Linked DNA regions of Homo sapiens. The protein of the gene in region 3 purifies or fractionates together with the protein of the main gene of each other region. This does not show direct contact. Each region holds a gene or a part of one and is shown on either strand. Other genes may lie near its edges. The genes, in order: COCH, COL18A1, DEFA1, ABHD17B, CACNA2D1, NXPH4 and NID2.

What was found.
Region 1: the proteins of DEFA1 (region 3) and COCH purify together in Homo sapiens (affinity purification with mass spectrometry, with the first as the bait; 2 studies listed by BioGRID). This does not show direct contact.
Region 2: the proteins of DEFA1 (region 3) and COL18A1 purify together in Homo sapiens (affinity purification with mass spectrometry, with the first as the bait; 2 studies listed by BioGRID). This does not show direct contact.
Region 4: the proteins of DEFA1 (region 3) and ABHD17B purify together in Homo sapiens (affinity purification with mass spectrometry, with the first as the bait; 2 studies listed by BioGRID). This does not show direct contact.
Region 5: the proteins of DEFA1 (region 3) and CACNA2D1 purify together in Homo sapiens (affinity purification with mass spectrometry, with the first as the bait; 2 studies listed by BioGRID). This does not show direct contact.
Region 6: the proteins of DEFA1 (region 3) and NXPH4 purify together in Homo sapiens (affinity purification with mass spectrometry, with the first as the bait; 2 studies listed by BioGRID). This does not show direct contact.
Region 7: the proteins of DEFA1 (region 3) and NID2 purify together in Homo sapiens (affinity purification with mass spectrometry, with the first as the bait; 2 studies listed by BioGRID). This does not show direct contact.

What each region holds. Positions count from the first base shown.
Region 1 is NC_000014.9:30,873,360-30,877,358, reverse strand, and holds the start of COCH (cochlin isoform b precursor), read right to left. Parts: upstream 2,801-3,999; 5' UTR 2,768-2,800; exon of another isoform or gene 2,444-2,767; 5' UTR 2,421-2,443; coding exon 2,387-2,420; intron 2,304-2,386; coding exon 2,256-2,303; coding exon of another isoform or gene 2,061-2,255; intron 1,181-2,060; exon of another isoform or gene 807-1,180; intron 1-806. UniProt on the Homo sapiens protein: Plays a role in the control of cell shape and motility in the trabecular meshwork.
Region 2 is NC_000021.9:45,467,665-45,471,164, forward strand, and holds part of COL18A1 (collagen alpha-1(XVIII) chain isoform 4 preproprotein), read left to right. Parts: intron 1-577; coding exon 578-1,122; intron 1,123-3,500. UniProt on the Homo sapiens protein: Probably plays a major role in determining the retinal structure as well as in the closure of the neural tube.
Region 3 is NC_000008.11:6,977,293-6,981,546, forward strand, and holds DEFA1 (neutrophil defensin 1 preproprotein), read right to left. Parts: upstream 2,801-4,254; 5' UTR 2,721-2,800; intron 1,869-2,720; exon of another isoform or gene 1,834-1,868; coding exon of another isoform or gene 1,825-1,833; intron 1,355-1,824; coding exon of another isoform or gene 1,343-1,354; coding exon 1,168-1,342; exon of another isoform or gene 1,037-1,167; intron 588-1,036; coding exon 478-587; 3' UTR 357-477; downstream 1-356.
Region 4 is NC_000009.12:71,908,394-71,912,622, reverse strand, and holds the start of ABHD17B (alpha/beta hydrolase domain-containing protein 17B), read left to right. Parts: upstream 1-1,429; 5' UTR 1,430-1,989; intron 1,990-2,106; exon of another isoform or gene 2,107-4,229. Other genes in the region: uncharacterized protein C9orf85, read right to left, coding at 787-888. UniProt on the Homo sapiens protein: Hydrolyzes fatty acids from S-acylated cysteine residues in proteins. Has depalmitoylating activity towards DLG4/PSD95. Has depalmitoylating activity towards GAP43. Has depalmitoylating activity towards MAP6. Has depalmitoylating activity towards NRAS.
Region 5 is NC_000007.14:81,945,944-81,948,360, forward strand, and holds the end of CACNA2D1 (voltage-dependent calcium channel subunit alpha-2/delta-1 isoform 1 preproprotein), read right to left. Parts: 3' UTR 501-2,417; downstream 1-500. UniProt on the Homo sapiens protein: The alpha-2/delta subunit of voltage-dependent calcium channels regulates calcium current density and activation/inactivation kinetics of the calcium channel. Plays an important role in excitation-contraction coupling.
Region 6 is NC_000012.12:57,215,539-57,219,593, reverse strand, and holds the start of NXPH4 (neurexophilin-4 precursor), read right to left. Parts: upstream 2,801-4,055; 5' UTR 2,625-2,800; coding exon 2,568-2,624; intron 1-2,567. UniProt on the Homo sapiens protein: May be signaling molecules that resemble neuropeptides and that act by binding to alpha-neurexins and possibly other receptors.
Region 7 is NC_000014.9:52,041,560-52,045,059, forward strand, and holds part of NID2 (nidogen-2 precursor), read right to left. Parts: intron 1,373-3,500; coding exon 1,223-1,372; intron 792-1,222; coding exon 546-791; intron 1-545.

The DNA.
Region 1 (3,999 bases), on a different chromosome or scaffold from region 3:
CTAATGTGAAAGTTCTGGGTTTTTATTTCGTTTTTGTTTTTGAAATGGGGACTCGCCAAGTTGCCCAAGCTAGGCTCAAATTCCCGAGCTCAAGTGATCCACCTCCAACTCCCTAGTAGCTGGGATTACAGGTGTGCCACTGTGCCTGGCTTCTCAGTTCTTAACCAGGTTGGAAATACATAATTGGAACTATATCTGAACTAGAAAATAAAAGTCATTTAATATTAATTATAGAAATATAAAAAATCTTGGCTGGGCGTGGTGACTCATGCCTATAATCCCAGCACTTTAGCAGGCCAAGACAAGAGGATTTGCTTGAGTCCAGGAGGTCAAGACCAGTCTGGACAACATAGCAAGACCTCATCTCTTCTAAAAAAAAAAAATTTTTTTTAAATGGCCACACGTGGTGGTGCATGCCTGTACTCTCCGCCACTGGAGAGGCTGAGGTGGGAGGATTGCTTGAGCCCGGGAGTTCAAGCTTGCAATGAGCTATGATTGCATCACTGCACTCCATCCTGGGTTACAGAATAAGATCTTGTCTCCAGAAGAAAAAAAAAAATTTTTAAATCTCAACTTTGATGACGCTATGTACACAGTTGCTTGAGGTAAAGATAGTAAATCTGGATTGAGCCTTTGTGGAACATTTTCATAGACATGTGCACAAATCAAAGCCATCCTTTCCTTCATAGGACCATTTATCCTAGTTAGCCTACAAATGCAGATCCTTAAACTCACACATTAAGGAAGCCAACAAAAAGATGCTTAGATTCACAGAAAGTTATCTAACTTGATTGTTCATTTTATAGATGAGAAAATTAAAGCCGTGGGGTTAATTTGCCCAAACAACATTCTACAACTCCCGAAGGACAGAAAACAGAAAAGTGAATCCCTTCAGAATACAGCATTTTTATCTTAATTGAACCTGATTATTTCTGCTCCAGATCTGTCCAGTGAGATTTATCAAGCAGCGGATGCATTTTTAGAAAGCACTGTTAATATTCTCAAGTTTTACACTGTCAACCTAACAAAGAATCAGTTTTTACTATAAATGATGCTAGGAAGAGACAAGCTCTTGGCAACAAGTAACAAGATAACATAATACAACATGTTAATTTGTGAATTTACTGTCGATACTAAATTGAGATTAATGTTATTAAATGCTATTTTTCAAACATGGGAAGTTGTAGTTATCCAAACCTTTTTAAAACATATATTAATTTTAAAAACCTTTTTTTTCCAAGGCAGAGGAATACTTTCTGGCCATACTGTCCAACTGAGTACCTTGCCTGTGACAAGCACCCTCCTCTGTGCCCTTTGTGGTGACAGGTACCTTACATTCCATGGAAGAGAAGGAAGGATGCAGGCGCAATGCCCATTTCTTAGCTCTGAAGCAGTCTAGAGAGCTGAGAGGTTAAAATCCTTACCCCTAAACAGCCTCATACCTATCATCAAACAGCCTTAATCCTTCCTCCCATTTTCCGCTGAGATGGGGGCGGCATCGGAATCCGGTGCCAAGACCGACCGCCTTTAGTTGCGAACACTGACTTTTGTTAAGTAGAGCGGGAGAAATACAGCCATGAGGGATACTTAACCCTCATTCCTACTTTCAAGGAAAACAAACGGTAGCTCTTAGGAAAGCGTTGCCTTTTACACTGGAAAATACACCAAACCACACACCCATACCCGGACCTCTACACGTGGTACAAACTTTTTAAACTCTCTAGCGTGTAGAGTGAGACCGCGAGTGCTTCTGATTATAGGGGTTACACCTAGAAACATAGCTAGCGAGTCAAACAAGGTGGGACAGCGACGTTCGCCTCCCTCTCTCTCGGCTACGGCAACCTGAAGTCGGGTCTGGGCGGCTTCTCCTCCACCCCCAAACGCAGCAGAGCCCAGGACTGGTGCGCTCCTCGGTGAGGCTCAAGGAGTCCTCCTTCCTCGACCTCCTGCTGCCGGCGCTCAGCGGGCCCGGGGTCTGGGGCTGTGGGTGGGCCTGGAGGAGGCCTTCTTCCTAGTGCTCTTGGAGAACGTCCCCCCACTGGACCCCAGGGGCCCCCTACCATGGGAGAAACAGGTGAGCAGGAGCAGATCGGCTGCAGGGGTTAACGCGGGCGCGCCACGCGGCGGCTCAACCTTCGCGCCTTCCTCCTCAGGCGGTAGGGCTGAAGCCCAAGGGGCTGGATCTGAGTCCCGCTTGTACCCGCTGGTGCTCAGCCCCTGCGACCGCCTGGACGCACCCCAGCTCCCCCACTCACCGGCTCCCTCGCTGCCCGCGGGCCCCGGCAGCAGCAGCAGACACACACCTGCGAAGAGAGAAGCGTGAGGGCTGGCTCCAGCCTCCACCCAGCGGAGCAAGGGGCCGGGGTCGTGAGGGGCGCGCACCCACCGAGGCCGAGAGCCGGGATCCAGGCTGCGGACATGGTGACTGATAGGCTGCTCACACCTGGGAGAGAGGGAGAATGCGGGCAAGGCCAGGGTGCGGGAGGCCCCGCGCGTCACCTCCTCAGAGCCCCGCACCCTTCGGATCCCCGGGCGCGGCGCAGAGGAGAGAGGACACAGACGACCCGCTGCTCCAGGCCAGCGCCCCTCTAGGTCTGGGAGGCGCCTCGGCGGCAAATCGAGCGAAGCCCAGGATCGGTGTGCAACCCCGCACCGCGGGGAGGCGGGGGCGCCAAAACGACGACAGACAGGCTGGGAGCGACAAAGAAACAGGGACAGAGGCGTCAGGGATCCCTCGCACCCGCGCCCGCCGCCCGGGGCTCCGCACCTGCTCGAGATCCACCCGGCTGCGCCCGAGTGCGGAAGGCAAGGCCCCCGCGGCCGCTATAAAGGCTGGGCCGTGCGCATGAGCACTGTGCGGGGGGCGCGGGAGGAAGCGCGGGAGCCGGTCCCCCGGGGCCCGGCGGCGACTTCCAGCTCCGCCTTCGCCCCCTGCCGGCCCCGGGGTGAGGCCGGCGCGGAGGCGCCTCCTCCAGCAGCGCAGGCTCGGCCACCTGGACGCGGCGCCAGTCCCTAGAGGGGCACGAAGGTCCCCGTGCCGGCGTCTCAACGAGTGTGGAGGGCCGGCGGCCCCGACGGCGGCAGCAGCGGCCTCGCCAGCCCTGCTCTGCCGGGACCAGGGCTGCTGAGGCAGCGGCGGCCGCTACCCGCCCCACCCAGCGAGGCCTGGAGCTTCTGAGAGCTGTCAGGTCCACGCGGCCTGAGAACCGAACTTCTCAACTTGGTGCTCTCGTGGAAAGAGTTCCTACTTCTGAAATAAAACCACCCTAGGTTTGGTAAACGCATGCCGCGTTTTTGTTAGAAACCCTGTCAACTGACTGCTAGCTCGTTGGACCTTAGGGATTCGGCCTTGCGCCTTCGTTTCTGCTGGAGTCCTACTTTCCCCAGTGGTTCAATTTGTGCTCCTGCCTAGAGCCACGCGTGTGAGACAGCCCTGACCCCAGCAGCCGGTACCTTTGCTTCTTTCTCACCTCAGGAAGAATTTATGCCTGATTGCCTTTCGAAATTCCCAGACTTGGTGTCTTGTGACTGCACAGAATCTCAGATTTGATAATGTGTTCTCCTTCTCCCCGCACCATCCTGCTAACGTTTTACAAATGGAAATGGAGAAGGAGCAGAATTCTTGAGGAGTGTTAGTGACAGGCGACCTGCATGGCAGCGGAAGAACCAGACCCAGGCCCAGACGCTAACCTTTCTGGTACAATATAAACTTTTTCAAATAGCCTTATTTAGTTACAATTTACATGCCATAAAATCCATCCGTTTTGAGTGTACAGTTCAATGATGTTTAGTAAATTTTCAGAGCTGTACAACCATCACCACAAGCCAATTTCAGAACAGGTTCATCCTCCCCAAAATGATCTCCTCGCCATTGTCAGTCAGTCTCTTCTCCCACTCCTAGTCCTAGGCAATCACTAACCTATTTCCTGTCTCTATAGATTTTTCTTAGTGGTCGTTTCTTATAGATGGGATTATACATTGTGCGGCTTCCTTCACTGC
Region 2 (3,500 bases), on a different chromosome or scaffold from region 3:
GGGTCAGCCTCCCTCCTTCCCTGTGGTGGAACTGTGGCTTCACAGTGGAGGCCAGGCTGGGGTGCCGGCCTGGGCTGCTCCAGCAGGGTCAGAGTGGGCGGGCAGGGCACAGGGCCGGGCGGGAAGGCTGCCAGCCCCAGCCCCTCACAGCTCCTTGCCCCAGCGGGGGTGCCGGCCAGTCCCTGGTCCCTTCTCCCCACTGGCTCTGCCCATCAATGCTCAAAGCATGGAAGGGGAAGCCTGTGGACACCATGTCTGCTGTGCCCATCCCTGCTCAAAGCATGGAAGGGGGCCTGTGGACACCATGTCCCGTGCAGACACCATGTCTCCTGCAGACACCATGTCCCCTGCACACAGGTTTCTGCATGGAGCCTGCCTGTCGTTTGGGAATGAGTGAACCAGGGTGGCCGTTGGGTGGCTGAGCCCAGGGGATCAGGGCAGGCTGCCAGGCACGTGGAGAGCCCTCCCAGACTCAGTTTCTCCTTTCTGCCCCTGCCTGGCTGCCTCTCCAGGCCGCGTCGGTGGCCCCTGGTTCCGTCCTGCACAGCCACCTCACCAGCTGTCTTTCTTTTTGCAGAGCGCATCAGCGAGGAGGTGGGGCTGCTGCAGCTCCTTGGGGACCCCCCGCCCCAGCAGGTCACCCAGACGGATGACCCCGACGTCGGGCTGGCCTACGTCTTTGGGCCAGATGCCAACAGTGGCCAAGTGGCCCGGTACCACTTCCCCAGCCTCTTCTTCCGTGACTTCTCACTGCTGTTCCACATCCGGCCAGCCACAGAGGGCCCAGGGGTGCTGTTCGCCATCACGGACTCGGCGCAGGCCATGGTCTTGCTGGGCGTGAAGCTCTCTGGGGTGCAGGACGGGCACCAGGACATCTCCCTGCTCTACACAGAACCAGGTGCAGGCCAGACCCACACAGCCGCCAGCTTCCGGCTCCCCGCCTTCGTCGGCCAGTGGACACACTTAGCCCTCAGTGTGGCAGGTGGCTTTGTGGCCCTCTACGTGGACTGTGAGGAGTTCCAGAGAATGCCGCTTGCTCGGTCCTCACGGGGCCTGGAGCTGGAGCCTGGCGCCGGGCTCTTCGTGGCTCAGGCGGGGGGAGCGGACCCTGACAAGTTCCAGGTAACCCCCACTGTGCCGTCGCTGGGGGACTGGAGCAGCTGGGATGGGGTGGGGTGGGGGTGGCCACTGGGACAGGGACGGAGCTGTGGCCGGAAGAGGAGAGCCCCCACCCCAGCTGTGGTCAGCCCGGGCCTCCAGCGCAGGCCTCCTGGGTTCTTGGCTGCTCAGCCCTGGCCTCCGGCGCAGGCCTCCCGGGTTCTTGGCCGGCCTGGCTGGGGTGGCATTCACTTTCTTGGCTCTCTGGCTCCTGCGCCCCCAGGAAGGGTAGCCCTGGGCTTCCATGGTTTCTCTGAGACCCCGAGGCCCAGCCCAGGAGGGCCCTCTTTGAACGACTTTGTAACTAGACATCCACCCCAGCCGTGACCCCGTGACCCAGAGACACCCCCAGGCCTGTGCCAAGCCCTGTGGTGAAGTGGGGCTCCCGGCCTCTGACCGGCCGGTCGGGTAAGTGGGGACCGAGTCCAGGCCCAGCCACACGCCTCGTGGCCCCATGCAGAATGAAAGCTGGGGTCCTTGTTGAAAACGATGAACGATCCAAAGCTGGCGGCAGCAGGGTGTTGATCCCAGCAGGGTTCTCCTGTGGTAGCTGCACACCCGCTGGGACCAGGGGCTCAGGGCGGCCCTGCAGGTCAGCACCTTTAACAAAGGGTGCAGCAACCCACGCCTGTGAGACTCCACTTTGGAGCACGTGGTGGGAGTCCCCCAGCGGTGAACGCACGTGGCCGCCTCCACCTGAGTCTCCGGGAAGTCCCTCCAGTGGGCCTTCATTTCTTGGGGTTGGGGGGGTGGACAGATCCCTAAACCCATGTGGGGTCTGTGTCCAAAGCCCCTGCATTTCTGGGAACCTTTGGCTGGGAACAGCCACGTGGGTGACCTCAGCTGGCACTGTCTCACAAGTCCCTGAATTCTAGCATTCAAGCTGGCCTGCAGCTGGACGCCCCTGCCCTGGCGGGCCGCAGGGGACAGAAGGTTAATTATTGCCCAGACAAGGGCTGTTTGTTTGAAGTTGTTCTAAGTCCTGGTGTCTGGGGGTTCTGAAAGCTGACTTTTCACCTTTGGCAGGAACTTTTAACCCTCAGAGCTCAGGAGCCGCTAGGACGTTGACACCAAACTGGGCCTCTTTGTTTTCCTCTTGATCACAAACATGATTACCGGGAAAGAAGTCAGAGTCACCCCCTCCAGTGAGAGGCAATTTGTTGTGTGAGTCCCCAGCCGTTTCTTGGTGGAATAAAGTGGCCCACAAGTGCCGTACATCTTTAACACTGTTAGGAAAAGCGGCTGAGTGCCGAGAGCTCGGTACGTGGGTGCACAGCTGTGCCCCGATGGTGCTAGGGAGAGCCGGGCCACCGCCCTGCGGTGAGGGCCTCCTCATCAGCGAAGTCCCGTGTGTAGGAAGAGGGGGTCTGGGTGTTTAATTTTGCATTTCTTGGACTGTGAAGATAGACTTTCATTTTGTCACTTGTTTATTGTCTGTTTGTATTTCTTCCTTTGTGACTGACCGGTTTATGTTCTTTGTGGTTTTCAATGGGCCCAACTCTCAGTGATTTATACAAACTCCTTATCTTTAAAAGAAACTTCTCTTTGGTTTTGCATGCTGCAGATTTTATTTCTACCATGTCATTTGCCTTTTTACCTTGTCTTTTTTTTTTTTTTTTTTTTTGACTATTGGGATTGGATGTGTGGTTTTTTTGTGGGTTTTTTTTTTGTTTTTTTTTTTTTAGATGGAATCTCGCTCTGTTGCTCAGGCTGGAGTGCAATGGGGTGATCTCGGCTCACTGCAACCTCTGCCTCCCAGGTTCATGCGATTCTTCTGCCTCAGCCTCCCAAGTAGCTGGGATTACAGGCACCTGCCACCATGCCTAGCTAATTTTTGTATTTTTAGTAGAGACGGGGTTTCACCATATTGGTCAGGCTGGTCTCGAACTCCCGACCTCAGGTGATCCACCCGCCTAAGCCTCTCAAAGTGCTGGGATTACAGGCGTGAGCCACTGCACCCAGCTGGGATTTGATGTGTTTATGTGGTTAAATCTGGCCTGGAGAAGACACCATGACTTACAACAGCCCAGTGAAACCTTGGAAGGTCAGAGAGCTGGAACAGGAGGGAGCTAGAGGGCCCTGGGTCTGGCCCTGGGCTGGGGCCCTGCTGGGCGTGGGTGGCGTGCAGCAGGCCGTGTGCTGCTGGGCGTGGGTGGCGCGCTACAGGCTTCGTGCTGCTGGGCCTGGGTGGCGTGCTACGGGCTTGTGCTGCTGGGTGTGGGTGGCGCGCTACGGGCCTTGTGCTGCTGGGCCTGGGTGGCGCGCTACGGGCCGTGTGCTGCTGGGCCTGGGTGGCGCACTACGGGCCTTGTGCTGCTGGGCGTGGGTGGCGTGCAGCAGGC
Region 3 (4,254 bases):
ATGAAACTCCAATTCTTTAGCACAGAGGATGGTTTTTTTTTCCCGGAGAAGTAATGATTTTGTGACTGCATGAAATGTAAGCTGACACCGATTGTTTGCCCAGCACACGCGAGCTCTTTGAGAGTGGATCCAGAGAAAATGAGGCAGGGTGAAAAGGCAGAGCAGTGGGTGGGGAAATCAGTGGTGTCATATGGGCCTTCTTTTCAATTTGGATCTGAAGCCCAAACTCCTGCTTGAAATTCCTAGAATTTGGAATTTTATATTGTTCAAAAATTTGATTTTGCGTTTTGGTACGTGTATCCCAAGTGTCTTGACACAGACACATATCACACATTAAAGAGGTGGAAACACAGAAATCTTGTAACAAGGCATTTATTTGGGATGAGGAAAGGAAATTGAGCAGAAGGTACAGGAGTAATAGCAATTCCCTGTAGCTCTCAAAGCAAATTTTGAGCTCATTTTTCTTTTTCTGCAAGCTCAGCAGCAGAATGCCCAGAGTCTTCCCTGGTAGATGCAGGTTCCATAGCGACGTTCTCCTGCAATGCACGCTGGTATTCTGCAATAGCAGGCCATGTTTTTCCTTGAGCCTGGGACAGGGAGAGCATGAGAAATTGAGTATGGAGTTAGCAGTGGGTAAGAAAAAGAATCTCGGGGAAGTCACATGCTAGCTGACAGGTGATGCTGGCTGCATTGCAGCCGTTAGCACGAACAACCTCAGTCGATAGGAATAAACACGCAGAGCAGTGCTTGTCACTCAGAATTTGAGACTCATTCTCCTTTGCTCTCATTTTTGCATTCCTGCCCCATCACACACACACCTGAACATATCCTCAGGCTTGGCTGCAGTTTTTAAAAGCTCTTCTGTAGATAGAGTAAAATGTTCTCTTTACAACTAAGTCTACTTGTTTAGATCCAGAAATAACTAGTCTGTCTCTTCATATCTGAAACTTAGTGAATTTCACAGACGTTTCTTGGAATCAAGTCTTTGGAGAAATAAAGTTTCTCATGTTTATTTGGCTCTCTGTTCAATTTCTAGATGAGAAAATCAATGCCCAGAGATTCTAAGTGAAGCCACCTCAGTGACATAGACTGCTGAGACCCAACTCTGGAACCTCTCTCCCGTCCTTCCCTCTAGACTTAGCAGCTCTGCATGCCTGCCTCTCTCACCTGGATGCTTTGGAGCCAAGCTTTCGTCCCATGCAAGGGAAACAACCACTTCTGGGATGTCCGCTGCAATCTGCTCCGGGGCTGCAGCAACCTCATCAGCTCTTGCCTGGAGTGGCTCAGCCTGGGCCTGCAGGGCCACCAGGAGAATGGCAGCAAGGATGGCGAGGGTCCTCATGGCTGGGGTCACCTGGAGGAGGGAGAGCAGGAGCAGCTGTGTGGGGAGGGAGGAGCCAGCCTGGATTTATAGCTCTACTGGGAGAAGGCTCGGAGACAAGAAACCTTCCTCAATCTCAGTGAGAGGAGGTGTGCATTTTATAAGAGAGGCCCATTGGTCTCAAGGTTGCTCGAATGCTCCTGTTCTCCCAGTTTCATGCTAGTATACATCTGTACCTTTAATGTCTGTGCTAGGTTGGAGCTAATAATGACAAGAAAGACCCTGCTATGTTACTCGTGGGTTCACCTGCTTAAATATTATGATTCACTTTTTAACATTCCAAAAAGAATAGAAATTGCACTTTGATTCAACAGGCTCAGGGAACAAATGCTTCTTATTTTCTGAAGATGGGTCCTGCTGTTCTCTGGAGGTCTAGATTCTGGTGTCCTATATGAGTTCCAATGGAATAGCGAGTAATTCACTTCAGGATTCAGGTGACTTACCATCCTCATGAAGAGGTTTTTGAGGTTATGGGGTGAGTAGTCTCCTGTAGGAATCAGGGTGGAGAGGACAATGATTTTATCAGGCTAAAGGTGAAATCAGCTCAGTGACACAGAGTGGTTTAAGTAAAAAAAAGAAAGTTTATTATTTCCACCTCTACTTAGACTTGAGTAACAATTAACAATTGTATATTTATAGTGTACACTACCTCATGATTTTATATATGTATGTATTTAAATCTTTATCTCACACCATGTAGAAACATCAACTCAGAATGAATTGAAAACCTAAATGTAACAACTGAAACCATAAACTACTAGAAGTGTATAGAAGGATAAAGCTTTTGACATTGATGTAGGTAATGATTTCTTGGCTATGACACCAAAGGCACAGGCAATAAAAGGGAAAATAGACAAGTGTGGCTTCATTTAACGCTAAAGCATCTGCACAGCAAAGGAAACAATCAACCGAGTGAAAAGATAACCCAGAAAATGAGAGAAAATATTTGCAAAACCTACATGGCCGAAGGGGCAAATATCTGAATACATAAGGAATTCCAACAACTCAATAGCAAAAATCAAACAACCTGATTGAAAAACAGACCAAGGACCTAAATAGGTTTCTCTCAAAAGAATGTTCCAAAGACCTGTGATAGTCTCTACTGGACATGTCAACCAGGACATGTGACATGTGTGTTTAGAAGGAAACTGCTTGAGTTTCTCTATTAAGTTAGCTGGAAGCCATCGTCCCCAGCAGTCACCAGAGGTCCGGACAGACGTTCCTAGCAGGGATTCGCCCGCTGGTTCCCTCTGGGGTGGCCCCACAGTCAGAGGTCAGATTGGAGGCATAGCTTCAATAATGAAAACTCAGTGTAAAGTTTAAGTTTTGTAGTACTTACAGATCCTCTAGCTAGGCAGGGTGACCAGAGAGGGCAGACAGCAGTCCTCTGTCCCAGGTCTTCTATAGCAAGGAGCAGCCGTGCACAAGTGGACTTCCCCTATTTAAAGGTCTTTTGGGATGAGGTGTCCTAATTTCCGGGGTTACTTTCTGTTGGGTCCATTAAATAATTGTGGTGGCAAGGACAGTTGAGAAATTTGGTGGGAAGGTGAGGTTAAAGTAGAACTCCACAGAGGAACCTCTCATCTACCTTGGTCAGCCCTGGCCAGGCCCAGGCAGCAACCAACTATGGATTCTCAATGGCTCCTAACACAGTTGACCCTGTGATGCATTGGCTGTGGCTAAGCTGAACTACCTGCACCAAGGGAATATTTAAGGCCTCTGGGACAGCCTGGCTGCGTATCACAGTATACGCCCTGCAAAGAGATTGGGATAGGAATGCCACCTGCACACAGAGGAGGATTTGGAATGTGTTTCTAAAGCAGTGTCCCGAGGACCTGGGGTCTAACCATAAAAACTAATGAAAGCCATTTGGCTGAGCTGGGATGTTGGAGAACACCCAGGTGAGACTGAGTGCTACCTGGGCTTCTGTTGCTATGTGGAACAGACATTTTTGGGTTCTCCTGAGTACTGGATGTACACGCGGCATGTGGTTCCCCAGAGGTGACTATCACCTGTTTGCTTGGCCAATGAACAGTTTAAGCTTAAACAATTGTCTAGGATCATCTGGGCCAAGAACTGGTCTGAGGCATTAGCCATCAGGGTGGGAGTGGCCTTTCCAGATGGCCACCCAAGAAAGGAGGTGGGAGTCTGGGCATTCACTTTACTGCTGGTGTTGCACAGCCTCTCAGGCCTTGTGGGCCTTCAGAGAAGCATTCAGCAAAAGCTTGAGTGGTGCTTTCTGGGAGGCATAGGAGTTTCCATCCTTCACTGGTACACATCGGAGAACAGGTGTATCCCTGAGCCCATGATCATGTCTGGATGCTTTCTGTGAATGCAATGCTCCAACTCTTCAGGCTGCAGTCTGGGTGTGTGCTGCGGCGTCATGAGCCCATTTGGATTGAAGCCTGTGCATCCAGAGAACTACCTCCTCATCCTTAAAACACGATCTGTGGTTGTGAGGGCTGCTGGTGTTTAAGCATTGGTGCCATGGGACCCATTCAATATCTAAGGGTTGAGTTGCCCGCCTTGGACACAGGTCAGGTTGTATCTGGGGTGCAGCCCCTGTAACAGGGCTTACAGGGAATTCCCCAGTTTTCCAGTCTGGGGTACAAATTCTGACTAGGGCTGTCCTGTTCCAGCAGCCCTCTAGGCTGCCAGGCCTGGGTTAAACAGCTACCCCACAAGCCATTTGTACATAAGATACCAAGCAAGGCCAATCATAGAGAACACTGACATCTTGTCACTCAGGGCTTTCTTCCCAGTGCTTCTATATTGACACTGATGATGGGGTTGGCTGGCACCCACTTTTCCTTGGAGCCTTTCTCCCCCATGGCCACGTTTGGTGATGGCACTTCCATATGGTCTTTGCCTGA
Region 4 (4,229 bases), on a different chromosome or scaffold from region 3:
AGCGCCCGCCACCACGCCCGGCTAATTTTTGTATTTTTAGTACAGATGGAGTTTCGCCATGTTGACCAGGTCGTTCTCGAACTCCTGACCTCAGGTGATCCACCCGCTTCGGCCTCCCAAAGTGCTGGGATTACAGCACTTTGAGCCACGGCGCCCGGCCTGCAAATTAGTACTTATATACAACCCAAGTCCTCTGGCTATCTAGACAGTCTGAATTTTTTAGCAGGACTTTACAGAAGTCCTGCTAAAGATAAACAGCAAAACAAGTATTTTTACATTAACCAAATATTTTTATCTTCAAAACAATTGTTACAAAACAGAAATTTCACACAATACTAGTGAGGACAGCCTAAGACAGCTTAATCATTCACATTTCCTCTATGGGCTTGGGGTTTTTGGAAAAAAAAATCGTAGCTGCATAAACTTGGTGTAAAATTTGAAAAAGCCACTCATGCCACAATCCTCGTTTCCCTCTGCTAATGTGATCCAGATGGGAACGCTGAACGACGTAACTGCCCCATCTGCACCTTAGATTTCATTAGGGTCCTGTTCACTCTGTGCAATTAGTTAAGTGTGCTGACCATCAAATATTTACCAGGAGACAACATGTCCAGGTCAAAGAAAGGGCGTGAGAATAACATTTTAGAAAGAGTTGCACTGCAGCCAAGACTAACTCTGGGCTGCGGTCCACACTCGCCCCAGCCGACTCCTCTCATTTCCTCTCTCCCCTCTCCAGTGAGCCATTCCTTCCTGGAGTCAAAGACGGTGCAACAGGCAGGTTCCTACCTTGGTCTGCACACTTTTATCGAACTTGTCATTTTTGAAGCTAAACGTATTCTGGTGCTTCTGAGGTCTGGAACGAGCCACGTTGCCTTTCTGGGAGCTCATCGCCGAAATCAAAGCCACCCCTCGCCGGGAGCAGGCAAAAGGATGAGGGGAAAGAAAACCAACGAACTACTCCCAGGAATTGACGCTTCTGTCAATGACCCGGAAGAAACAAACGCAGCCTTTCCGCCCCGGCTCTGGGTCAGCCCACGTGACTCTTCTGGGAGGTCAAAGAGCATCGCTCTGCCCTCCCTGCTGTTAAGCCAAGCCACTCCACGCGGCGCAGCCTCGACCCCTCCGGCTCCGCGCAGCCTCTTTCTCAAACCCGGAGAACAAGTCCCACTTTCTTCGAAATGAGAATTCCCCCATTGGCCCGAATGTGTAGTCCATCAAATCAAAGGGGCGGGGAACCTTTGTTCCTATTGGTTCTTCTTTTCCGCAATCCCCGCCTCCTGCTGAGCGAGCTCAGCCTCTCCTTGAGCTCAGAGCGCCTCCCACCCTGCCGGGCGGCCTCTGATTGGTGGAAGTGAGGCAAGGCTGGGCTCCGTCTCTCCCCCCGCCCGCTAGTAGGCTGGAGCCGGGGTCAGCTTTGGCACCTTCCTCCAGTCAGTGGCCAACTCCTGGCTCAGTGGGGATTGTGCTCGTCCCCTCCGTTCCCCTCCAGTCTTCCTCCCGCTACCGGAACGAGCCTCGCGCTTGGCAGGCTGAGGAGGAGCAAAGAAAGCAGGATTAAAGAGAAGGAAGACCTGGCTAGGTCTGGGTGGCGTCTGCAGTGCCAGAAAGGGAGGCGGTGGCGGCGGCGGCTGCGACCACGGCCGCGCGGGACGTGAGGCCCGAGAGCAACCGACGGGCAGCGGCGGCCGCTCCAGCGCCCCGCACCGGGGCCGTTAGTCAGCAGAACGCGAGCTCTTGTGGAGGAGCAGGGCCGGCGCGAGGCGAGACTCGGGAGCGTGAGCGGGGCCCCTGGGGCGCCGCCGTCCTTCTTCGCCCCGGCGCCGGGGGCTGTAGCCCTGGTCCCCGCTCCTCTGTCGGGCCAGTCTGCAGGCGGAGAGAGTCGGACGGCGCCCGGAGCGCGGATCTCGCCTTGTGGAGGACAGCGCGTCGGCTGCGGTTCTCTCTCGACCCCTTCTGCCCGGCGCTTCGGCCCGGGCCGCTCAGGTGCAGGTGCGTGCGGCCTCGGGGTTTGGGGACGCCGCAGCCCGGCTCGGGGAGGGGGCGCTAGGCCGGGAGCCGCAGCGCGGGAGGGACGAGCCCGGGCCGGCGGGGGGAGGGGAGCGGGAAGCGTCTTTGTTGTTGGCGACCGGGATCCCTTCTCGGCACAGGGGAAAGGCGGGGAAGCCACTCCTCATCGGGTCTGTGTTTTTGAGAGGATTCTCTGATGGTTGCGTGAAGGGGAGCGGTAGGACAGTCCCTGCGGTCCGTGGAGCGGCCGGAGTCAGGGGGTGGGGGAGGGAGGACCGACCGACACTCTAAGAAGGTCTTTGGTCCTCCTCGGTGAAGAGAAGGGTTCCATTTCATTTCCTTTGCTTTTCTCTCAGTGGATGAAAAGATGGGGTCAGGTTCCCATTCCCCTCACTGGCGCACTGAGAGATTCGCGGGTGCCTAAAAGCTTTCTCCTGAATGTCCTTATATCTCTGTCGGGCGCGATTTTAGATTGAATCTGCACGGGGCTTGGCGATTTGTGTATTCCGGTGGGGCTGTCGTAGGGTTCTTTTTCTTTAGATGGTTGGGCTTTAATCTTATTTGTTTTCGAACTCTAAGGTAGGCTTATCAGGAATCGTTTTTGAATTGGAAAATTTAAAGGTTTTGTTTGGGATTTTTTTTAACCCCGAAACAAAGTTATGTCAAATTAGATTGTACTGTGTGGGGGCTCTCGTGAAGGAAAGAGTGTATTTAACCTGGGGTTTTTGTTTAAAAAAAAAAAAAGTTCAGATCTTTGATCTTTGGTGAGATCTCTGCCAATGCCAGAAGAGAATTTTTTGTAAATGATGCTTTAAGTCAGTGTGAAGTAGATTTGGTAAGCAAAAGGATGAATAACGGAATACAGAGGGTGACCTTTAAATTTCGCTGTTTATGAAATGTGTTCCTGTTTAATACTTTTTGTGATATATGATGCTTGATCTATAGATGATTCATTTGGAATTTTTTTATGCCTCTAATAAATCTTTGGAGATCTTGTGCCAACATATGAAACTATAATACCTAATGAGTCGGAGTAGAAAGCCAGATACATGTTGTAATAACGTTAATCTGTTTAGATTAACAGGGAAATTTACATTAAAATGAACTTTTTTCCGTAAAGAGTTTCTCTACATATGTTTATAGCATGAATTTCAGTTGGGTGACATCTAATGATAGCCAGTATTTTGAAAATTGTCATGATTGCTAGTATTCTAATTTGAGACTGCTCAACTTGTTGGTAAGTTTTTATTTGGAGAATAGGGGTCGTGTTACTTAAGGAACAGCAGAGGTAAAAATCTCTGTTGTGCAGTAATTGTCATATCATTTGAAATCCAGAAGGAAATGAATGGCACCTTCACCTATATTTTGACCTCTCTTTTCTCCTACTCTAGTGTTAATAAGGTTAATTGGCAAGGACAGGATTAGATTTTTAGCAGGCTAGGCAGTTTTAATTTTGTCCCTTAGTGTGCAGTATTCTAGTTGATGAGTAGCTTGTTTCCTTGAGTATCTTTGCCCATTTTGAAATGTTTATGAAATGACTGCTGACAAAGAATTTTCTGTTTCCTGGGACAAACAAAATCACCAAAAAACATCATGAAAAAATAATGTTTTTAGTAGCTTAATGAACACAGAAGAATTAAGCAATTAGTGTCTGTTCCAAGTTTGACACTGAATTGGTCTACAACTCCAGGCACGCTATCCCACATCTGAGTCAGTTTTCTCCATCTGTAATATAGGGCTGATAAAATGTGCCACCTGCTCACTTTATAAAAAGGGGAGTGAGAACCATGTAAGCAACAGTTACTCTGGTTATGTGACATTGATATAAGTTAAATGAGAATACTTTTTAATGCAGTGCTCTTACTTTGTTTTGATATTATGAATTTCAATCATTTGATGAACAGTTAGCATAAAGATAAGGAGAATGACTCTCCCTATGCCATCATTTAAGAATTAAAATTTCTTCCGTATTAAGATTGGTGTTAAGATCTTTAGAAGCAGTGATGACAAGAAAATAGAGTATATTTTATTGGTTGGTTTATTTACTGGTAGATTTTACTTCTGATTTATCCAAAGTTTTGCTCTTAATTCTGAAAATTCCCCCTACCCTTCCTACTCTTTAAAATTTCTCACATACATTGCCCCATTTGCCTGTCGAATCCAGCCTTGTGAGTTGGAGAGAGGGAAGGTGAGTTTGTGGCCTTTTTTTTTTTTTTTTTTTT
Region 5 (2,417 bases), on a different chromosome or scaffold from region 3:
TAAAAGAAGTCCAAAGTCTGATGAAGTACATTCCTAAGTGCCTTGATGGAGAAGGCATGTTAGAAGGTTAGACTTAAGTAAAGGCATCGCGAGTGAATTGACAGTCATCCCTCTGTGCGTGGGGGGGATCAGTTTCAGGATGCCCACGTGTATCAAAATCAATGCATACCCAAGTCAAGTCTGGAAAGTGGCCCCGCAGAATCTGAGTATACAGAAAGTAGGCACCTGGTATATGTGGGTTTTCCATCTTGCAAATACTGTATTTTCAATCTGCATTTGGTTGAAAAAAATCCACATATAAGTATATCCATGTGGTTCAAACATATGTTGTTCAAGGATTGACTGTATTTGTGTGAGTTGAGGTTTGTAATTGTAAAAGCACTATTTAATCCCAACTTTTATTTCCACAATCCAGAATTCTCTCTTAAAATTATTTATGACAGAGCCATCTGTCTCTTCCAACTGGATCTTTTAAAAAGCAGAAAACCCAAACCGCGTGGTGACTTTAAATGATAAACTTTTATTCTGAATATACTGTTTTTGCACAAGATTTAACACAACATTTTCTGGGATTATAAATATTTTATAACAGTATTATACAAATTTTTACAAAATGTTTTTATCAGGCTAGGTAATTTTCACAAAAGTGTCAAGAGAACAAAATAAAGGGGAGAAAAGATCTATTGTTCACAAAAGCCAGTTGGCCTTTTGCATGAATGCACACCATTTTAATAAAAGTATTCCTAAAAGCATGATCCGACACTCATACAACACAACAAAAAAGACAGCTTTACTAGGTCACATTATAAACTCAACTGGCATCTACACAAGACAGTATCCCATTAGTTTCAGTGGAATTTGAGATAACTGTGTGAACTAGAAATAAGGTAGATGAAGAGTTGTCTAATTCTTCAAAAATCTGGAATTTTTTTCAACACTCAAAACATTATATTGGTTTGCTCTTTACAGAAATGTACTGTGAATATTGACATTCTGCTATGGGAAACAATACAAGTTTAGATGAAAAAATATTTAAAATTTTGGGCAAGTGAAATAGTTATTTCATTCTATTCTTTAAAAAAAGTAACAACATCCATTTTGTTTCACTAGGTCAGACTATACCATTAAACATTTGAACGTCTAACATGATCAATGGAATAGATTCAGAGTTTTAAATGAAGACAAAATCTTAAGCTTTGTTGGTCACAGACAAAGATTTAAATGAGATTTAAAATACAAGAGAGCATCAAATAAGCAAGTAACACTTGGGTTGCAAAGGTCACTTAAAAGGGATACTGCCTATTTGAACCCGATAAGTCCAGTTTTAAAGTTAATAAAAGGAATATTATAGGAAAACTTACAAATGGCAGGAACACTGTTTTTTGTTTTTTTTTTTCCCAAGTTAAGCAGTAACACCTCAAGCATTAGAAACATGAAAAAAGATCATACTAAAATCTTATAGGCCCAGGACCTAAAAATCTCTTCAATCAAACTTGCTAACTATGTCATGTTAAAAACCTGTTACAAATATGGACCACGGTTGGTGTTTGGCAGTAATGCTGGTTGTTTAAATGAGGAAAATAAAAAGAAATCATTAATGCAAAATTCTTTCTTGTTACTCAACACCATTGCCAAGCTCACTTGAACTCTGTTTTAGTGACTAACTACACTAAGCCACATGAGTATAACAAAAATTAGTTAAAGCAGTGTATAAACTTTTTTATTGATCTGTTGTACTGTTCAGTCGTTGGAAATCAATATTAATAACAGGCTATAATTTAAGTTCTTGTCAATGTAACTCAGAAAAATACTAAATGTAATGTAATAATTTGATGGGATGAGTGTTACTGTCTTAAAAAATATGCTAAAAGCATGAAGACTAATATTAGTCATGGGAACAACTTTTATTCAGCTTGTTCTTACCCAATTTGTAATTGCATTTATGGTTGTCATAATATATAACTTTATAGCAGAAAATAAAGGTTTATAGCAAAACTCATGCATATAAATATATTTTGATGGCAACAGAAATTAAATAGGATCCTGCCAAGAGATGCCAAGTTTAACCGCGATTAATACAATAACAATGTAATTGATGAAAACATATACTCGACATTAGCCATGAAAATATATTTAATAGATTTTGAACATAATTTTAAGGTAGTTTGTTGTATGCTGGAAGCAATTCAATTGTTTTAATGTGCATTGTTTATATACACAAACTAACAATTTTATATTTTGATACCCCCTTCCCAACACTATCATGATTTAAGATAGTCTAGCAAAAATTGAACAATAACTTTTAAATATTTAACAAACAACATGATTAAAACATTGTTACTAGAGTGAGAAGTTTTTTTCCCCACATATATTTTAAATCACTTTGGTGTTTTCTAAAATGTCAATACCAGTTATGA
Region 6 (4,055 bases), on a different chromosome or scaffold from region 3:
AGGGGGTAGCTGGCTGAGGGGCTTCGGCCAGCCAGCTCTAAGAGAATCAGACCTAATCCTTTCCTGAGGCGGGATAGAGCTGGCAGGTCCCACAGGGCCCCGCCCCTGCCCTCCCCCAGCTAATTAGTAATTAGTGATTAGTGATTAGTGACTATTGATCGCCTGCTGCTTCTCCCAGTAGGCAGCTGCTTTGGCAAGGGGTCGGGGAGACAGAGAGAGAGGGAAAGGAGTCAGAGACTGTATGAGAAAGATCCTCAAGAATCCCTGGCTGAGAGGCCAGAACCCCAGAGGCAGTGGAAGCCAGGAGTCCCAGGCTCTGAGAAATGGGAAGCCTGGAGTGAGGAGGAAGGGAGAGAAACCTGGAGGAGGGTGAGCAAGCAGGACGGGAGAGGCAGAGGTGTCAGCCGTTCATGGTTAGGGTTGCCAAAAAGTTGCCCTGTAAACTGTCCCCTAGCCACCTCTTACCCAGGATCAGCCTCACCTTTTGCCCACTCCCAGTGCTGGCACCAAGACACCCTTGAGCACCCACACACATAAGCCACACTCAGATACATAAACACATCCTGAGGCTCACAATCTCATAGCACACTCAAATGCACTCACAATCACAAGCACACAGAAACACACTCACAAACCCCAGAGACTCATACAGACAACACATGGGCCCCAGCACACAGATGCACCAGAAACCCCGGGGTATACATGTGCATACGCCACACTCACAAGTGCACAGAAGCACACACAGGTATTTGGACACACAAACACTCATATACCCACACCTCCCCGTGCAGTTATACATATTCACACACCCGCAGTGTGTACACATGTAAACACATTCTCACATGCACATAAGCTGGGCTAACCAGCAGATCCACTCTCCCTGTTGACTCCAACACGGAGGCCCCACAGCTGCAGCTCACACACACACACTCAGATAGATCCCATTGCTCATATCCTCACGCTCACTCTCACTCAAGTCTCCACCAGATGTTTCATTCCCCCTCAGGGGGCAAAGGAAATTAAACCAGATCTGTCCACAGGGGAGTTTATTTGCCTGGGAGAGTGGAGATGAGGTGGGAGGAAGTGGAAAGGAGGGGCAAGAGAATGCCATACCTACCACCTCTTGACCCCAGGCCTTCACACATGGGTGGGTGGGTGGTAGGGCACAGACCCCCCCCACTCCTCCAGTTCACTAAGGACAGAGTTGGGCAGCAAGTCCCTAAGAAGCTCCTGCTAGTGGAAGCAGTTTTCATGGAGGGGCTCCTCTGCCTACCGTGCAGCCCCTCAAGGTCACCAGGTGGGGCTGGGAGGGCCAGGGAGCTCTAATGCTAGCTTCACTGGGGCAGCCCCTGCCCTGCTGGGGTTTGCCAAATGTGATTTGGCTGAGCAGGCAGAGGTCCAAGTGTTGGGGGAAGAAATACACCCCTTCTAGACTCTACAGGGGCTGAGGGTACAGAGAATGAGGGTTTGGGGAATGACCTGCCTGCCCCCAAACTAGGTAGGTCACAGTTGGGGGTCAGAAAACAGGGAAGCCATAGGCAGGGGAGGCTGGTAGAAGGAAAATGGGGGACTGGGGCCTGGGCCCCCATTGCGGGCACACACCAGGGGCATAGGCAGATGGCTGCACTGTGAGGCAGGCACTGACACTCACTCATGCAAAGCCAACACCACACACCACACCAGTATACACATGTACCCTCGGCCCCAGTACTGGACCAAGCCTGGCTTCCCTGGACACATGCACACAGGTGCACACGGTGACCCACGCCCTCCACCCAGCACATATGAGCACAGCATGTTCGCAGGTTGAAGCCTCCAAGTCAGGAAGGAGGCAGATCAAGTCTGAGCTCCCTTAGCCTCTGGCTCTTCGCCCGAGAGCCTCAGGGAAAGAGGCCTTGGAGTGGGGTTGGAGGCAGGGAGGGCATGGGAGGAGAGACTCCCCTTCCAGACAGCCTCCCCCTTCAGTGGGGCACGAGAGGGGGGTGTGTCTGTGAGGTCGTGCAGGGGAGATGGTGTCTCCGTGGGAAATGTGATGGGAGGCTGGCTGTAGCCAAGTTCAGCCGTGTCTGCCTGAGTCCGTGTGTGCGTGTGTGCTCGGGCCATGGATGCTCCCGACACAGAGCCCACCTGGCATGGTGACAAGTGCAGAGAAGAGAAATGGGAAGGCGGGGGTGGAGGGGTGGAAGGACAGACAGACAGTGAGGCAGGCGAGCGAGACTGGCGCGGAAAGACGGCAAGGCTGACACCCTGCTGGCTTGTCTGTCTGTCTCGCACTCCCGCTCTGTCTGGCGCACTCGCGGGTCGGGCTTCGTCCCCTCCCCCGCCGCGCCTGAAGTCGGCTGCAAGGGGGACCTCCGCCCGGCACCCTCTCCAAGCCTCAGCCAACTTGCGCTAGGAGAGTGCCCGTCCTGAATCGGGCAGTCTGTCTGTCCGCTTCCCCCGCGCCGCGCAAAGTTGGGACGCTCGGAGCTGGGGGCGGGGCGGGCGCACGGAGCCCCTCGCACACTGGGACCTTCGCGTCCCGGAACCCCGCGCCCGCGCTAGCGCCCCAGCCCTGCCACTCTTACCTTCCTAAGGAGCCACGGGCCAAAGAGCAAGAGGAACCATTCCGGGAGCAGCCGCATCTTCTCTGGCGGCTGAGCGGGGCAGGCTGGGCGGGTCTCGGGCAGGCGGGAGCCAGGCCTAGGGACGCGGGGCTCCGGGCGGGCGGCGGGGCGGCTGCGGGAGCGGCGGGAGCGGCGGGAGCGGCGGGAGCGGCGGCGCGGCCCGCGGACTGGGCGCGAGGCGCGGAGCCGGCGCTGGGGGCGGGGCGCGGGCGGGGGAGAAAGTTGGGTCTGACTCCGCGGGCGGGGGGCGGGGCTCCGCGGCGCTCCAATCCCGGCCGCGCCCCGCGCGCCCCCTCCCGCCCAGCTGGGGGCACCGAAGGTGACTTTCACACCGGCACGCCCCGGACACGCCCCTGGCCCAGGTGCGAAGCGGAGGGGGTCGAGGGGCTCAGGCACTGGTCCCCCGAGAGGCCGCGTCTGTGCGCCCAGGAGGAACGGGGCAGGGCGTGGGGCTCTGGGCTCCGGGCCCGTGCACCTGGAGTGGGGGCGCCGCGGAGCCCAGCCGGACGACGCTCTCCAAGCCCCGGGCCTCTGCCCTGTTCAGGGCCAAGGTGTGTCGGGGCAGGCGCAGGGCAGGGGCCGAGGTGGGGACGGGCGGGGCCTCGGGCGGCTGCCGCCGCGCGATGCTGACGGGGATGGATGGGCGCCCCGCGGCTCATTCGGCCCGGAGATGAGAATCATTGATCACGGACGGAAACCCCATCACGTCTGTCAATAGGGCTGACAAACGGCGCCCTCCGCCCCGTCCCCGCCTCACCGCACCTCTGCGGTCTCAGGACCCCTCGGCTAGACCGGCTGTTCACCTTTGCCCCTGGCCCCCACCACTGACCCCCACGAGGCCCAGTGCGCCTCTGCATGGGGGCTGGGCAGGAAATCCCTCTCAGCGCCGCCTGCCTGGCCTCTTGGTGCAGTCTCTGTTCCTCCCCTCCCGCCGTCCCATCTTTCACCACCAGCTCTTCTAGATCCTTGTCCCCATTCCCTATCTCTGTCCTTGTCTCTGTCCCCAGCCCCAGCTCTCTGCCCCCATCCTCTTCTCTGTTTCTTCCTCGGTTCCCTCCTCCCCACTGCCTCTCTCTCTCCTGCCCGGGTGGTTTCAGCTGTCAGCTGTTGCTATGCACTGAGGCTGTGGCTGAGGTTGTGGTATGACCAACACCTAGACAGAGATAGGGACAAGCAAAGAGACTGAGAGACAGACACATCCCTTGAGAGCCCACCCCAGGGATGCACGCAGATGCCTTCACGGGGACAGGGCACACAGAGCGAAATACAGAGACAGGCGCACACCTAGCGGCACCCCAACACACAGAGGAGCACAGCAACAGAGGTGAGCACACCTGCACCCAGACGAGCACACCCAGACAGTTGCTCAGTGCGCTCACCCTCTCTTTGTCTTGGCAGAGAGCAAACACCCACAGAGGTGGACACACACACTGAGACATACACAGGTGT
Region 7 (3,500 bases), on a different chromosome or scaffold from region 3:
TCACCTCCTAGCTTGGTAGAAAAGCAAAATCACGGACCCCACCCCAGGCCTGCTGAACCAGAATTTACATTTTGACAAGACCTCCAAGTGATGTGTGTGCAGGTTCAAGTCTGGGGTGCACCGGCCTATACTATTATAGGTTGTGGAGCTGGGAGGAGAAGAGCACCCCTTCCCCATGAAGTAAAATCATCCCCAGGTGCCCCAAGTACCATTTTTGCATTTGACAGATCTGTGCATAATTTAAAAAGCCTGACAAATATGCTGCAACAAATTGGGGTAAGAGGACACAAATGTTCTGAATGGAATCATCCTGTTTCTCAGAACAGCTGGGAGAACATTTAGACGAAATCACTGCCTTTCAAAAATCAGTGATGTGAGGTCAAACCATTCCCAACAACCTGTGGCCAGAAAACTACACACATGTGGCTCTAGTACATTAAACAAGTGATTCCTCTGTCACTGCGTAAAGGCCTAAAGACAGTGCCCCAAGGAGCACCACTGCCAAAGCAATGCTGACTACCGGCCTTCTCAGAGGCCCTACTCACCTGCGAGGCTGAAGCCGTTCTCAGAGCCAGGTTTTTCTAAAGCAAAGAGCCAGCCAAACAGGCCTCCAATTGGTGTGAGGGGGAGGAGGGCCTGGGCTGCTGGCTGTGGGATGTGGCTGATGGCCGTGTAGGCTCTGCCATCATTGCCCACGATATACGCATGCAGGTCCACATCAGTGAAGTGCACGGGTGTATGGCCCACGTGGAGGTGGCCACTCACTTTCCCATTCACTCGGTGAGGTGCCCCTAAAAGACAGCAAATCCAGTTAGGCTTGGACGTCATCCTGGCTAGAGATGGGTGTACCCAGGTATAATTATTCCACTGACAACTTCCAAAACTCACTCTTTAGCAAGTCACTTTAATGATTTCCTAACCAACCAATTATCCATCTATGAAACAGTCCTGCCTCCAGTCTGTTTTCTCCCCTCCTCCTTCTACTCCACTACACTTTGGCTCTAATGAGCTGGCAGAAGGAAGCATTTCTGGATAATCCTCAAATTGGGAATCAGCCCAAACCAGTTCATTCCTCACACATTTATTGAGCACCTGCAAGTTGATAGCACTCTGATTTAAGTAGTGGAGATGTTTGGTCCATAAAGCAGAGCTCACAGTGGTAGCTGGAAACAGGTAAGCAGCAGGAATAGACACACAGGAGTTCCTGGCCCCAGTCAATTACCTTCAGGCAGACAGTGCTTCCCATTTCCATAAAACTTGGATTGGCAGTGGCAGCAGAAGCCAGTGGCATAGTCCGTGCAGAAGGCATGCCGGGAGCATTGTCTGTGGTTGTGTTCACAGGTTTCCTTGTTGGCAGCATTATACGTGAAGACTGAAAAATAAAACAAACTTGCCTTAAAAGGACTAAATGATTCCAATGTCACTGCTGCATCGGGGACACAACATCTGCTCCATAGAAGCAGTTTAGATCATAACAAACAGTTTTTGATGTTTAAGAGACCGGCATAACATTCAACCCAAGGGAATTAATCTGCTTTGTCTGCTGGCAAGAAGAATTGCTTACTGCTCCCGGCTGGGTCCCATTGCAGAGTTGGTGAACTAAGATGAGACTGCACCCGTGGGTTTGAGTGCAGTAAAATGAAAGCAAACCAGTAAGTACATGTTAGGTTGAACTTCATGAAACCACTATTTTTGTGGGTCAAAAAGGGCTAAATATCAGCACTTTTATATGGTTCAACCTAAACACATCCTGAGAGGAAGACATAATAGAGAAGCTAACAAATGTCTTATGTCTAACCATCCTTCTTTTAGGGAACACTGAACTTAAAAAAGATAATAGCTGGTCTCGCTACCAAGATTGTTTTGAGGGAAGGGTCTTAAAGAACACACGCACCTACCTCAAAGAAAAGGCATGGGGAGAAGGGGACAGAGGAGGGCAAAACAACAGGGATTCAAGCTATTAAAATGCCCTATGCCCTTGGCAGGGTTTAACTATGATGGGTATGGTACAAGCATGATTTCCACGCAGTAGCAGACAGCTTGGGCCCCACTCGCAGATCTTCCAAGAAATTATGGAGGACTAGGATAAATTCAGTGCTCTGGCAGCTGTTTCTTCCATTTCCTACTTATTCTGCCCATTAAAAGAAGAGGGCCATCTGTGCTGCAAAGAAATGGGGAAACTGGAGCAAATGCCATAGTTCATAAAGGAAATAGCCAAGGGGGTAGGGTGTGGCGGGGGTTGTGGATGGACAGGAGGGTGCTTTCTCCGGGGCACTAGGAAATATGCCAATCCCAAGCATGGCCACCAGGAGGCCAAGCGGCTGCACACACCTCTGCCTCCACATCCCCAGGAGGTGGAGTTGGCTGGAGACTCCAGGAGCATGCTGTTGAGCAGGGATGGCATGGAATTCTAGTGTGAGACACGGATGCTGGCATGAAGGAGGACACCCACCCTACTCTTAGGAAAAACCAAGTGGTAGTTGTGTTCCAGGTCTATCTGGAAACGAGGAGACAGGAGGGGAGGAAGAAATCCAAAGATCAATCTTTACCCAGTATTCCCAGGGAGAACAGAAAGTAAAGGAGCTAATGAGACATAGCATTATAGGTACAATGTCACCAAGATAAAGACCTCCATCAGCAAATAAAAATATAACAAAGTTAACACTTCAATCGCGCTTAACATATACAAGCTTTACATTTAACAACCTTTTTTTTTTTTTTTTTTTTTGAAACGGAGTCTCGCTCTGTCGCCCAGGCTGGAGTGCAGTGGCACGATCACAGCTCACTGCAAGCTCCACCTCCCAGGTTCACGCCATTCTCTTGCCTCAGCCTCCTGAGTAGCTGGGACTACAGGCACCCACCACCACGCCTGACTAATTTTTTGTATTTTTTAGTAGAGACAGGGTTTCACCATGTTAGCCAGGATGGTCCTGATCTCCTGACCTCGTGATCCACCTGCCTCGGCCTCCCAAAGTGCTGGGATAACAGGCGTGAGCCACCCCGCCCGGCCAACAACTCTTAATTTGCACAACAACCCTAGGTAGCAGGGACTTTTTTTTGTTGCTGTTGTTGAGACAGGGTTTTGCTCTGTCACCCAAGCTGGAGAGCAGTGGTGCCATCTCGGCTCACTGAAAGCTCGACTTCCCAGGCTCAAGTGATCCTCCTATTTCAGCCTTTTGAGTAGCCGCAGCCACAAGCATGCATCACACCTGCCTACTTTATTTTTTGGTAGGGTGGGTTGGGGGGAGGGGTCTCCCTGCGTTGCCCAGGTTGGTCTCGGTCTCGAACTCCTGGGCTCAAGTGATCTTCCCACCTAGGCCTCCCAAAATGCTGGGATTACAGGTATGAGCCACCACTCTGGCCAGGGACAATTTTTTAACCCGTTTGCAGATAAAGCTGAGGCACAGTAGACTAAAGCACCTGAAGTCGCATAGGCAGTGAGTGGCAAAGGTGGGAACCGAACCTAGGACATCTAGCTGGAGAATCTTAACTGCTACTCT